4 linked regions of the Homo sapiens genome follow. The protein of the gene in region 3 purifies or fractionates together with the protein of the main gene of each other region. This does not show direct contact. Each region holds a gene or a part of one and is shown on either strand. Other genes may lie near its edges.

Region 1 (3,500 bases), on a different chromosome or scaffold from region 3:
TAAAGCAAAAGCATATATTTATCTACCCCATATTCCCAAATAGAAATATTTCTACCCCCAAACTAAAGAAAGAAATGTTATTTCCCTTGAGTCACTTGGGCTAGAAGGAATAAGCCTACTGCCAGAATTGAACATAATTTTCTATCAAAGAACAAAGCTGAGCGCATTTCCCTTCCAGAAGGTGAGAAATTTTTTTTTTTTCTGGTCATTTAACTGCCTTTAACCTCTAGATCCATATTAATTTGCATGTTTGAATAAAAAGAATGAAATATCCTTCTAACCCAAATATATACTTCCTTATCCTTGACAAACAGATCTCAGCCACTTCCTGTGATGTTTCATTGCACTAAGTTGAGATCCTTTGCTCAGGAAGTTTCTCAAGTGTAAAAATATTGGATAAGAAAACAGAAACTAATCTTCAAGTCTGAACTGCATTTAGGCTAAATTGCTTAAAAACAAATGATCAGGGACACAGAGTTCCATCTCAGTGGCAGGTTCTAAGAGCAACTGAGCTATATGACAACTAACATCTCAGGAGAAAACTCTTCCAATAGTGTTATTTTTAAAACTTTAAAGGTATAGACCAAACTTGTCAAGTACATTTTTTAGTATTTATTTCTGGTCTGTTTCAACTCTCCTAATGACATGAAAGTGTTGTGATTGTTTTCTCTTAAAAGTCATCAACTGCTTGGGAGGCCCCGGTGGATCACCGGGTCAGGATTTCGAGACCAGCCTGGCCAGCATGGTGAAACCCCGTCTCTACTAAAAATACAAAAATTAGCTGGGCGTGGTGGTGCGTGCCTGTAGTCCCAGCTACTCAGGAGGCTGAGGCAGGAGAATCGCTTGAACCTGGGAGGCGGAAGTTGCAGAGAGTCGAGATTGTGCCACTGCACTCCAGCCTGGGCAACAGAGCGAGGCTCCAACTCAAAAAAAAAAAAAAAAAAAAAAAGTCATCAACTGCTTTGAAACCTTGAAAAATCTGTAGCATTGAAGAGGGCAGTAACCACAGCATATGCAACCATGAATCCCTAATGCCACCTCACAGAGTGCCCAGCACTTGACTGGTGATTAGCAAATGTCTGCTAAGTGAAGGAAGAAAGAATACTGTTTCCAAAAACCTTGGCAATCTCATTGAGAATGTCTTGGTATTTATTTTCGGATGACACGTGTCCAGTCTGTTCCAACGTCCGAAGATTCCTCTGGATTTTCCTCTTCTTCTGCTCAAGAGGCAGCTGTGCATCTTCAATCATAGATTGGCTATGCTTCATTTCTTCTGGAGTCCTGGAATCTATCATTGCACGGCTCACCATGTCCGTGGCATGGTCTACCTCCTGAAAAGAGAATATCAAGATGCTGAGTTTTCTCTGATCCCCTAATTTCACAGTTCATAAGCTACACAATGCAAGTTAATGTCAAAATGAAAGTAGTCCTCCAGCCAAAGTTCAGAGACTAGAACCAGAACATGTTCTTCCTGAGTTTTGAAGTAGGTCTTTGAAAGGAATTACTTCATCTTTTCGATAGCAAGCCTTATTTGGGAAAAATTCTCAATAGCTACTTTATTGCCAAGGTGACAAATCACTATAGTAATGGACATATTTTAATGGATAACTGCTACTTTGTTCCCCACATGGAAGGATTTCAATTCCTGGATAGGCTAGCTGAGGAAACTAAAACTAGATTACCTATTGAAATGTGGCTATGAGAACCCTGAATGTTCAGAACCCAGCTAAACTCTCACACATCAGCCATGTTTATGGAGAGTCCTAAACTAAACCAACAGTAAGGCAGTCAGAGAGCTTTATTCTTATAAGGGAATCACAAACCAGCAACTCTGAAAAACTTGCAAAGTTTCTTTGAGCCAAAGGGAATAAGAATATTCTAGCACATTATAAATTCCCAAACGATGAGTAAATGAATGAATGAATGAATACTCTTTGGATAGTCTGTTCAAGGAAACAGTAACAAAAAGAGACTATTGGTCTTCCCATTTCATTGTACTAGACAATTGACTGACCCAATAGATGAAGTCTAAGGAAACGACTATTAGTTAGGGACAGTAATCTTAGACACAGGACAGGTAGGTCAATATTATTGGAACATTATTACCAGGTTAGCAGTAAATAACAAAAGCAGCAGCCAACATTGTTGAGCACTTAATGTGCACCAGATACAGATGTACCCACTTAACATGTTTAATTGACTTAATCCTGCCTGTGAGCTGGGTACTATTATTATACCCATTTTACAGTTGAGGAAACTGCGGCACAGCAATGCTTCTAAGTGCACAGAGTTACACACCTAGGAGGTGCAGAGGTATAGTTGATCTCAGAAGTCTGTGTTCTTAGTCACTTATTCATGATACATTTAGGGGAAAATGAAAAATAGTAAGGAGTAAAAGTCTTTTATACTAACCTAGTATAATATTTTACCCACATTGTTTAAAACATACCCACATATTAACAAACGTGTGATTTGAAGTTTTGCTTTACATTTTTTATTAAAAATTTTTAAAAATTAGAGATGGGGGTCTCACTGTGTTGTCCAGGCTGGTGTTGAACTCCTGGGCTCAAGTGATCTACACACCTCAGCCTTCCAAAGTATTGGGATTACAGACATGAGCCACCATGCCCAGCCTTTTATATTTTTTAAATTAAAAACTATTACAAGGATTCCTTGGCAATCAATTAAATTAAGAATGATCCAGGAAAATTATGTGTAGCTGTGCTAAGAAATAGTTAATTAAATAATTAACTTTTGTTTAGGGAGCGGCAATTATTGGTACTAAAATAACAACCTTGAATTTATTTTAGAACGAACAATGACGTATTTTCAAAGATGTTAATAAAAAGCTAAATGCAAGATTGTTGTGAAACCTCACTTACGCTAACATAATGATGCTTTGACTCAGTGGACTCAACATTTGCTTCTGAAGCATTTGGAAAACATCTTTAACATGTGAGTCGCTTATTTGTTTCAAGTTAGTAAATACATAAAATGTGAAAGGTATTTTTCAATATCCTGTCAGCTAGAACTCTCTCAACTGACTTATTTGCCCATTATGATGAACATTTCCGGGCTTTGAAAAACCCAGAACTATCATCCTAGGTTAAGACAAAAGTATATTCGGCATGAATTTGGTGCTGTATTTTCTATTTCATTCCCATTGATACTTCATACAGGTTTATATATGGCTGAACTAAGTCCACTGCAGTAATAGATAAAATTCCTTACTTCCGGACCATGTCAGATACAGTTTCTCTGAGATAATAAACATATGGCATAAAGATTTATGAAGAAAATCAACACCTGTCTATTATTATTTTACACTTAAAGTCAAATTACCTGTTGCGCAGTTGCTGGTGTCTCTAAGATTTCTGTCAATGTGTTCCCTGGCTGGTTCCGGATCACATCAATTATCAGCTTCTTGGTCCTTAACAAACCAGAGAAAGAGACAGACTTTCAGACTGTAGTCCTTATGCACAAAAATCTGTTTCTCCTAA
Region 2 (3,500 bases), about 120 Mb from region 3:
TCCCTGTCTGAAAACGTGGGAATTGATGCCTCTCCCACGGTAACAGGTCCTCTGCCATAAAAGAACAGAACCTTCCCGCGTTCCTCTATCCATGGAGTGTCTGTGGATCTACGCGAGTGCTTAGATAGAAATTAACCCTGCAGCCGGAGATTAGCGGCCCTAACTTAATTTTCGTCCCACAGATAAGGATGGTCAGCCATGAGTTACATGGTTATTCTCCTAAGTTGCTTTGTGTGTGCACCACACAGAGACGCTGACATCACTCGTTGATTTCATCTGGCCTTGTGCCCTGAGCCTTGATTGAAACCTGGCTAAGTCATGCTGGCCTTAGGAACCACATCTGGACTGTTGGGAGGTGCATGGATTCAAATCTCCGCCGCCGTGGTTGTCCAGTGCCGTGCGCCTCACCGGTCCATGCAGGGGCAGCTGAACCCAGAGGCGCTTCTGTGACAGAGGGCCCGCAGGGGGACTGCTGTCTCATAAAAGCTAAACTCTTCATCCCACACTCTGTGTTTCAGAACAAGAAGAAAATTTTGAGTTTATCATTGTGTCCCTCACTGGCCAAACATGGCACTTTGAAGCCACGACGTATGAGGAGCGGGACGCCTGGGTCCAAGCCATCGAGAGCCAGATCCTGGCCAGCCTGCAGTCGTGCGAGAGCAGCAAGAACAAGGTGAGGCCCCTGGCTGCCCAAAACCAAGGCTGGGGCTGCTCAGGGGGAGTGCGGGCCCCAAGTAATGCCCCAGGGAGGAGAAAATAGAGGACCAGTGTGAATGACAGGACCTAGCTATTCTTTATGAGCAGAAAGCTCAATAACTAAAACGATCAGAAGCACTTTGTGTCTATACCATCATACATGAGTATTCCAGCCTGACCGTGCTTCCCTGGCAGGAGAGCCAAGGTTAAATCTTCAGTCTGTCAGCCAATCCCAGAGGGAATCTTTTGGACTCTTGTGGCTTCTGGGTCCACATTTATTTTTGTTTTGGACAGAATACACTCAGAAAAAAAGAGAGACGGACTTAAAAGATGCACTGTTCAAGTAAATGCCCAGAATTCAAATCGACATCAAGTTGGAAAACCGTCTCTTGTTAGGGACATAAATGAAAAGTAGATGGGTCTGTATGAGCGTGCAGGGAGTTTGGGAAGATAAAGTTTCTATTATCTAAACTGATAAAGCCTGGTATGTGTTTTATTCAATAATTAGAGGTGGTGGTGCAGCTCTTTTAGAATTTGTCCAGCAGGTTTTCTGGTTCTCACCAGAAAACGCCACCCCCAAATGTTTCTATATTAAAAAAATAATGAGAGGCAATTTGTTTTTTGTAGTTACTTAGCTAGAAAAGGAAAAATATTTTAACCTGTATTTTTTTTTCCTTTGGAGAGAGTCTATCTCTGTCACCTAGGCTGGAGTACAGTGGCACAATCTTAGCTCACTGCAACCTCCAAGCTCAAGCAATCCTCCCACCTCAGCCTCCTGAGTTGCTGGGACTACAGGCCTGGCTTGCTTGCTTATTTATTTGTATATTTATTTATGTAATATATATTATTTGTGGAGGTGGGGTTTCATCACGTTGCCCAGGCTGGTCTCAAACTCTTGGGCTCAAGCGATCCACCTGCCTCAGACACCCAGAGTCCTGGGATTACAGGCATGAGCTACCACGCCTGGCTTAACCTGTGTTCTCTAGGCTACTGCCCAGTGATGTTCCTTCTACAAAAGTCCTTTTTCCCATCAAGGATTGCTTCAGTTTCATTATTTTAATGTTTGTTTGTCTTTAACCTCTTTGCTGGGACGTCTTAGACTTTTGGAGAGCATTTTGATATTTCAGACTATGATCAACTAGAAACTAAGAGAAAGGATGTTACCCACCGACCTGCAGTTTCATTTGTAACCATTTAAAGAAATTTCTGCCTATGATTTATGTGCAGCTTTGTCACTAAAAAGAGAGTCTGTCTTTCAGAAAGATGAAGTGTCTTATTTTATTACCCTCTTTAACCAGGGTAAACCAGACCACAGTCATTATTATTATAATGTAATTTGCTTCCCTTTTTAAAAGATGTTTTATACTCAAGGTGGGGAGAACCACTGCCTTTCATTCCATACACCCTGGCTTTACTGGGTCACGTCCACATGCATCCATGATGTGCCTCCTGAAACGAGCACAGGGTGCTTTGGGGCCACCTCAATGGGAAGCAACAGCACACAGCATCCTCCAAGCGTGGGCAGCTCATTCTGAGAAGGAAGGCAGGGAGGCAGGCTGTGTTACCGAACAGAGAGGCACAGGTTCCTGCCTTCATGGAGAAATCACAGTCTTTCACGGCAGACTCTGAGCCCCTGCCACCTCGACCTAATTCAGGAAGATCTGGGATGGTGGCAGCCTTTCCCATTCCACACCTTGCCAGGCTCCTCCTGACTCGTGTCTCAGCTCATGCACACACCAGCCTTAGAATGCTGCCCTCGGCCCTCACTAGGCGCCTGTTCTCCAGGGAATTGCTCCCTTGGGAGGAGGACGCGTTGAGCAACCAAAGGTGGCCGACTCAGAGCTGGTCATCGTGGGCATTGGTTGAACAGGTGTGAGGGCATAAAACATGGAAATACTGTCCACAAGGAGTAGCGGGAGGCAAAAATACAGGCCCAGTTGACCACCAGCTTTATAGTATTTTACCTGCCAGTGGATAATTGAGAGCTGATACAGGTATAGGCATAGCTAGACAGACAGACAAACCAACCAACCACAGAAATGATACAGGTACACAGAGAGACAGAGGCACATCCCTTTGTATGTGTGTGTGTGTGTGTGTGTGTGTGTGTGATCACACACTTGCATTCCAGATGCCAGTGTAAACTGTTTAAACATATTTTGAATACTTGGGTATCTAACCAAAGGGAATTAAAATTCAATAACGCATGATGCTAATTAGACAGTAGTGATTAATACATTATAATTTATTATGTAGCAAGTAATATATTATTTCACATCAATTTGATGAGATGTTTCAATTTATGAAGAATTCTTACGCAAAAATCAAGCTTATTGTAACTGTCCTCTGAAATTGATCAATTTTTGCTTTAACCATAATATTAAATGCATACTTAATAAATAAGCCTCAAAAACACTACATATCAGCCAGACACGATGGTTCACGCCTGTACTCCTAGTGCTTTGGGAGGCTAAGGTGGGAGGATCACTTGAGGCAAGGAGTTCGAGACCAGCCTGGCCAACATAGGGAGACCATTGTCTCTACAAAAAAATTTTTAAATAGCCAGGTGCATGGTTCACACCTGTAGTTCCAGCTACTCAGGAGGCTGAGGTGGGAGGACCACTTGAGCCCAGGAGATGGAGGCTGCAGTGAGCTATGATTGCACTACTCCAGCCTGGGCAACAGAGCAAGACCCTCTCTCTAGGTGGGGAAAAAGGTACATATCCAGTACATATCCTTTCACTTAGAACTTCTACTTCCAGGAATCTATTCTTAGTAAATAATCATGAGTGTGTACCAAGACT
Region 3 (3,500 bases):
TGTCAAAGGCGGGAACAGGAGATAACGGAAACCCACATTGATGGGGGCATGTCAAAGGCGGGAACAGGAGATAACGGAAACCCACATTGATGGGGGCATGTCAAAGGCGGGAACAGGAGATAACGGAAACCCACATTGATGGGGGCATGTCAAAGGCGGGAACAGGAGATAACGGAAAGAGTTCCCAATGGTCAAAGCTGGGCTAATTTGAGCAACAAAATAAAGCAGTATTAAATTGTAACCCAAAGTATAAAATATTCATGTGTCCACACTGATAAACATAAATGATCGAACTAATAAAGCGAAAGGGACAACTGTCCTTTGCAGAAGAATTTCAATTAATTATGTAGACCACTCCCAAAAAAGTACACTACAACTCCCCATTCCTTTAGTGTGGGCTGTGCATAGTGATTTCCTTCCAAAGAGCACAGTATGAAATGGGGGAAAAGAGTAACTTTACAATGGAGAAACCTGACAAACACTCCTTCAGCCAGGTGATCAGGTCGTCAACATCAACATCAATAACAGTCATAACCTTTTATTTCATGTCATAAAATGGTGACACTTACTTGTGTTAAAAAAATTTAATAACAATGTAATCATTATATCTCTGCAATCAGCTGAAGTTCTAAGAAAAAATGACAATGTTGAAAGTTGTATCATCATTATTATAAACTTTCATGTTCAGTATATGTAAACTCCAAAGCCAATTTCAAAAGACATTTTTGTGAAATACCATTCTTTAAAAAAAAGGATATTATATATAACTGTATGAATGTTAAATGTTTTACAGTACCGATTTGCTACATTTTATGTATGCTGTAAAACAAATACCATTTTAAAGTATATTGGAATTCGTAACTAAAGTAATAAATAAATGCTTGAAATATACCCAGTAGAAACTTATTTTTATTATCCAATCCTTTTGATAAGAAATGCCTCTAGTGTTATGTACAAACTTGATCTTCTTTGAAATGTGTTGTCCACTGCTTTTCTGTTTCTGTCACAGTAGCTATAAACAGCTGTTTAAGGATATCCTTATCTAAATTTCTGCCTGCAAACAAAACAAAATATGACGTGATTACATTATGCTTATTAAAATGACACAGTTCACCTATCAATTCCAGTTCATTAAATGCTTTATGGTGTTTAGAAATTTACAAAAAGAATAGTAATTGAGTGATTCCATCTTTAACTTTCCAGGTCAGTACATCAAAGTCACATTGGTCCTTGGATTAACCACTTTTCTAAAACTGAAGAAGAACAAAAGTCCTAACAAGCTTTTACGAACGTTGTAACGTGATAAAGATGAAACATTGACCACAAGCTTATTTAGTTTTAAAAGAGGACCTGAATGGTTAATCTGTTTGAGTGGCACATGATATCCCTTTCAAATATATTTTTCACTTTGTTTTAAAACTGTGAATCCTTTCAGACTTACCAAGGAGGACCAATCGATTTGTTCTCTCAGTGTCATCCTTCCAGCTCACTGGAGTCTCCTCCAGATCATAGAGCTCATGGACACCCTGGACAATCACTTGTTGTGATTTGTCTTTGATTGACACCAATCCCTGCTCAAAGGAGAATTGACTGAACATTAATCAGCCTCAGTTCAAACTTAAAAGCAGAAATAGAGCATCAATGTTAATGGATTAATTACTGATATTCACTTAAAAAATACAAACTCTTAAGCTGAGAAAATTACTTAATTCCAATTATTTGTGAATTACAAGAAGTTTCTTAATGTTTTTAATTTTCAAAAAAGGTTTCTGTGTATTGATTTTTTTTTGAACAATCCCCTTTTCTAATGATAAAGTTAATACATATATTAGGATGGTTTTTCAGTGTTATTTATCACAACCAAAACCTGAAACAAAATGATGAAATATGTATCATATCCTATTGATTAAAGATTTTATATAATGTTTCACAGTTTTAGTGGGAAAAGTTGAGAAGTTAAAGGAGTTTGATTATATTAAATAATTTGTTTTAGAAATGGGTTGCAATCAATGAACAATGATGAAATAAAGAAAAACTATTATATTTATCTGAATATGAGCTCATTGTGTATTGATTTGCAGAAATGAAAAATGAATTATCTGATAAACTGGCTCCTATGGGGATGAAATTAATTTATTTGAAATAATATTCTTAATTTACCAAAAACTTTGTGCACACTTGTGAACACACAAGAGTAGACACTCAACTGACTGGTTAAGCATACACTTTAGAATCACTGCTTCCTAGAAGAAATACCTTTCATGACTTAAATACCCAAATATCAAGTAACGTGAGTGGGTTTCTAAATACAGAACAAGAATTCTTCTAGTCCTTTGTAACTTTGTTTAGAGTATGACAAATGTTTAGTGTCTGCTAAATGCATCAGGAAGCATAATGTTCAGCAGAAGTGAGATTTGCAACATTATTTCTCTGTACTTGGGAACAGAGAGCAGAAGGTAACATTTCAAAGCACACAGGTTTGTTCTAGCTGCAACCCTAAAGAAAGTTGTGCAAATAAATCAAGCCTTATGCAGTGATTTCCAAAGCTCCTTTTCAGTCATGAAAATAATAAAGAAAAATGAAAGTAGACAAAGATGATTTGTACTAAAACCAGTGTTTCTGTTTAAAACCAAATATAGTTTTTATAACAGCCAAGAAAAGGACTTTGTCCGAAAGTCTGCAACAGTAAACTGTACCTTCAGCCTTATGACCTCCATGCAGTGATTGTCCTTGTTTCTCACATTCTTTTCCCACAGGAGATTCTGTATCAAGTGACATATTTTAATAAGACCAACCATCGCTAATAGCAACAACTATGTAACAAAACCATTGATAAATCATTTATCAGTTAAAAATTGCATTCACCTGAATAAACATATTAAGATGTTCTTCCTTTGCATTTCCTGGTACTTCAAATGTGATTGTAACAATACTCTGTAAATCAAGGGAAATAACAATAATTCTTTATAGTAATATCAATGTTTTTTAAATCACAAATTTTAAGATGAAAAGGAACATATTCATGGAATTTTACATTGCTTAAACCATATATATTAGGTATTATACTTTCCTCAGCATATGTGCTGTTTTTTTGGAATTAGCAACTCCATTTCCTACATTCTGCACAGGTACCAATGGATTTAGTATTTACACAAACTACTACCTTGTATTTTAAAAAACTCACTCAAAAACCCTGATGAAAGGGTCCTCATTATTTAATTCATTCTTTCGTGGATTCTCAGCAATAAGAATATATGTAACACATACAATGTACTCACTACACAGGGCCAGGTACTTTTGCCTGAGTCACCTCATTTTATCTTTTGACTTACTCTTCACAACAATCCTGGGGAGTGAAGATAACTATTTCATTTTATAAATTGGGGAAAATAAGGGTCAAAAAAATAAGCTACCCAGGGCCAGGAATAAAACTCAAAACCAAAGTAAATTTGTTCTCTTAAAAAAAAAATACAAAAGAAAGGCTTGGCTTATCTTTAACT
Region 4 (3,064 bases), on a different chromosome or scaffold from region 3:
CTGTATTTGACTTTGGACAGAAGTTGGTATCTTCTTATCCCTAAAAATTAATAATGTCAACATGTGTGTGAATGCAAAGAATGCTCTGACCATTAGAGTAAAGACTAGTAAAGAGAATGACTGCCAATATGAAACATTTCATTGCACACACCTATATGTTATAAATTTGGTCTCTTTCAAAAGCGTCCTGAAGTCAGCTTTGGCTGTGATATATTTGTCTCTGATATATTCTTCAAATTCTCTTTGTTTTTTCTGTTAATAAAAAAAAAAAAGTTGAGATTATGGAAATAAAACCCACTAATTCCAAAATAAACATCAATTATTTATTAAACAGTAATGTGTAAGTCACATAATAAAATTTAAAATTCAAAAGAAAAAGGCAACAGGGTACATTTTGTTCATATATAAAATTCATTAAATCACAATTTGCAAGGCTCATTTTTGCGGCAAATAGAAAGAATGAGGAATCATAAATTAGTAGTGGCTAAAACTTGAGAACTTGCTATGTGCTACACTGCTGAGCATTTTATGAGGATCATCTACTTCAATCTTCACAACAACCTCATGAGGTGGACACTTAAAAATAAGGATATTAAGGATTAAGTGTTCACTTCCTGCACACTGTATTTTTAACTTCAAGAACAAAAAGAGTAATTTGTGGATACAGCAACTGTAGGTTAACACTCAATACTTAACTTACACAGTAATGAGCATTTAGCTTTCTGGCAAGCCAAAAGTAATAAGATGAATAAACTCTTTGGACTTAAAAAAGACTTTATTATCAATTCTAAACAGTCAGAAAAGTTAGAAACTGAGACTGGGTCTACCCCTCTTTCCCAGTCATGCATATTTTATGGTCCAAACATCTACAATCCAATAGACTTTGAGGGGGAAGAATATTAGATTTATGAGTTTTTATAAAAGATGCCCAGACCTACAGAAACCAACCAGGAAAGGGGAATGATGTAAAAGAAAACAAATAAAAGGCCTAGGGATAAAATGGACTGTAGTAAACAACACTTTTCTTGACATCATTCACTGTTTCAGACCTTGAAGCATATGAGAACTAGCGATCTCATTACAGGGCTCTGTTTGGCTTAAGAGTCAAGTGCTTTGATAGTTTGGTACCAATTGCCAGCCTAAATATGTCTGTCTAGTGGTACCTGACTAAAATAAAACTGCAGCTTCATTAAATTTCTAAGATCCTAAAATACAAGCTTCACCCCAAGTACTAAAATTTTAAACTTTCTATTGTGCTGTCTTGCTAATTTATCATGCAAGAAACAATACATAAACTTAAAATTCAGATTTACTTCTCATACACTTAAAAGTAATTCACTTAAAACAATCAACTTCATTTTGGTTAAGATAGTAGTGCTGTTAGGCCCCGATTTAAGTATTTATAGACTGACAGTAAATCTCGACACAAAATCCTCTTACCCTGTCACTGGAGGAGAACTTAATACATCGAGGATCTTCCTTAATGATTTTTTTTACTTCTTTCCACGTGGATGTTAAGGTAATCTTTGAAAAGACATGAATAAAAAACATAAATACAACTCACTTTTACTTAGGGAGTCAAACTGCAGCACATAGGTACATAATATTACACACTGACCTGCGATCTCTTGTAATGCCCAAGCGTAACTGGACTAGTTAGGGACAGGGAAGCAGCGTTAATGCAATTTCTTTTTGTTGGCTTGCCACAAGAGTTATTTTCATGGCCATACTTTCAAGGTGGCCTAAGACAATCACCTGCAAACCCTGTATTTACATGGGCAAACATCATAACTTCTGAAGAAACCATCACCAAAAAGAGAGCAAATAAAAAGGAACAAAACCTGGATAACAAAGCGTACAAACTGCCGAACAAGAGGCCATAGTACCAAATTGAAAATGGATCAAAAGAAGAAATTTGCTAAATCTATTATTAGGAGGGATCACTGACCACATGGCTAAGGACATTTTGAATTACTATGGGAGCAGTTATGAATGTGAAAACTGCAAAGAATAGGCATTTCTAAATAAATAAGAATACCATAATTTTTTAAAATCAGAGAATTGTCATAAGATGCATTCCAGTAATGAATCTAAAGACCATGACACTAAAAATCATATCAATGCTTTGCTTTAAGAAATTACTAACAAGATTCATCCAGATTAAAATGAGAAAAATAAGAGATTCTTACTGCAGAAGTTTCATCCAGAAGTTGCCTAAAGTGCTCTCTCTTTTTTTTGGTAAGTGCTTCAATGTGTTCATTAAAAAGCTTCTCTTTCTCCTCTCTTTCCAATAAGGATCCAGATTCCCAGCGGTGATCTTTTCGGAGGGTCCTACGAGTATCAGACCATGACACATCTGAAGAACGTACCTGAAGAGAAAAAATTATATATATATCACCAAAGAGACTTATCTGAATGTCCATTTGCACTTCCATGTCCACTGCAGCATTATTCACAATAGCCAAGATATGGAATCAACCTAAGTGTCTATCAACAGATACATGGATAAAGAAAATGTAATAAATATACACAATGGAGTACCACTCAGCCTTAAAAAAAGAGGAAAATTCTATTCATTTATGGCATGGATAAACCTAGAGGACAACATAAGTGAAATAAGTCAAGCACAGAAACACAAATACTGCATAGTCTCACATTTGTGGAATCCAAAAAAGTTGAACTCATAGAAATAGAGAGTAGATGGTCACCAAAGTCTAGGGGGTAGGAGACAGGACAAGGGAGAGAATGAGGAGTTACTTGTCAAAGATAATGAAGTTTCAGAGACAGCAGAAATAAGTTTTGAGACCTACTGCACACCAGGGTTAACTAAAGCCAATAATGTATTCTACATTCAAAATAACTGAGAGTAAATTCCAAGTGTCTCACCACAAAAAATTATAAGCAAACAAAGTGATGAATATGTTAAACAGCTTTGGTTTAATCATTCCATATTATCTACCTATATCAAAACAGCAACTGTACCCCGTAAGTATATACAATTATGACTTCTCAAAACAATTTTTAAGAAGAAGACAGTATAATAGAAGGCATAACAGGTCTGGCT

The links.
Region 1: the proteins of ZNG1B (region 3) and IQGAP2 purify together in Homo sapiens (affinity purification with mass spectrometry; one large-scale study listed by BioGRID and IntAct). This does not show direct contact.
Region 2: the proteins of ZNG1B (region 3) and AGAP1 purify together in Homo sapiens (affinity purification with mass spectrometry; one large-scale study listed by BioGRID and IntAct). This does not show direct contact.
Region 4: the proteins of ZNG1B (region 3) and TCERG1 purify together in Homo sapiens (affinity purification with mass spectrometry; 2 studies listed by BioGRID and IntAct, with this or other methods). This does not show direct contact.

Annotation. Positions count from the first base shown.
Region 1 is NC_000005.10:76,693,285-76,696,784, reverse strand, and holds part of IQGAP2 (ras GTPase-activating-like protein IQGAP2), read right to left. Parts: intron 3,431-3,500; coding exon 3,343-3,430; intron 1,332-3,342; coding exon 1,119-1,331; intron 1-1,118. UniProt on the Homo sapiens protein: Binds to activated CDC42 and RAC1 but does not seem to stimulate their GTPase activity. Associates with calmodulin.
Region 2 is NC_000002.12:236,036,043-236,039,542, forward strand, and holds part of AGAP1 (arf-GAP with GTPase, ANK repeat and PH domain-containing protein 1), read left to right. Parts: intron 1-518; coding exon 519-673; intron 674-3,500. UniProt on the Homo sapiens protein: GTPase-activating protein for ARF1 and, to a lesser extent, ARF5. Directly and specifically regulates the adapter protein 3 (AP-3)-dependent trafficking of proteins in the endosomal-lysosomal system.
Region 3 is NC_000002.12:113,493,191-113,496,690, reverse strand, and holds the end of ZNG1B (zinc-regulated GTPase metalloprotein activator 1B), read right to left. Parts: intron 2,935-3,500; coding exon 2,866-2,934; intron 2,763-2,865; coding exon 2,697-2,762; intron 1,572-2,696; coding exon 1,442-1,571; intron 1,055-1,441; coding exon 948-1,054; 3' UTR 487-947; downstream 1-486. UniProt on the Homo sapiens protein: Zinc chaperone that directly transfers zinc cofactor to target metalloproteins, thereby activating them.
Region 4 is NC_000005.10:146,506,333-146,509,396, reverse strand, and holds part of TCERG1 (transcription elongation regulator 1), read right to left. Parts: intron 2,370-3,064; coding exon 2,190-2,369; intron 1,765-2,189; coding exon of another isoform or gene 1,657-1,764; exon of another isoform or gene 1,619-1,656; intron 1,525-1,618; coding exon 1,441-1,524; intron 253-1,440; coding exon 152-252; intron 1-151. UniProt on the Homo sapiens protein: Transcription factor that binds RNA polymerase II and inhibits the elongation of transcripts from target promoters. Regulates transcription elongation in a TATA box-dependent manner.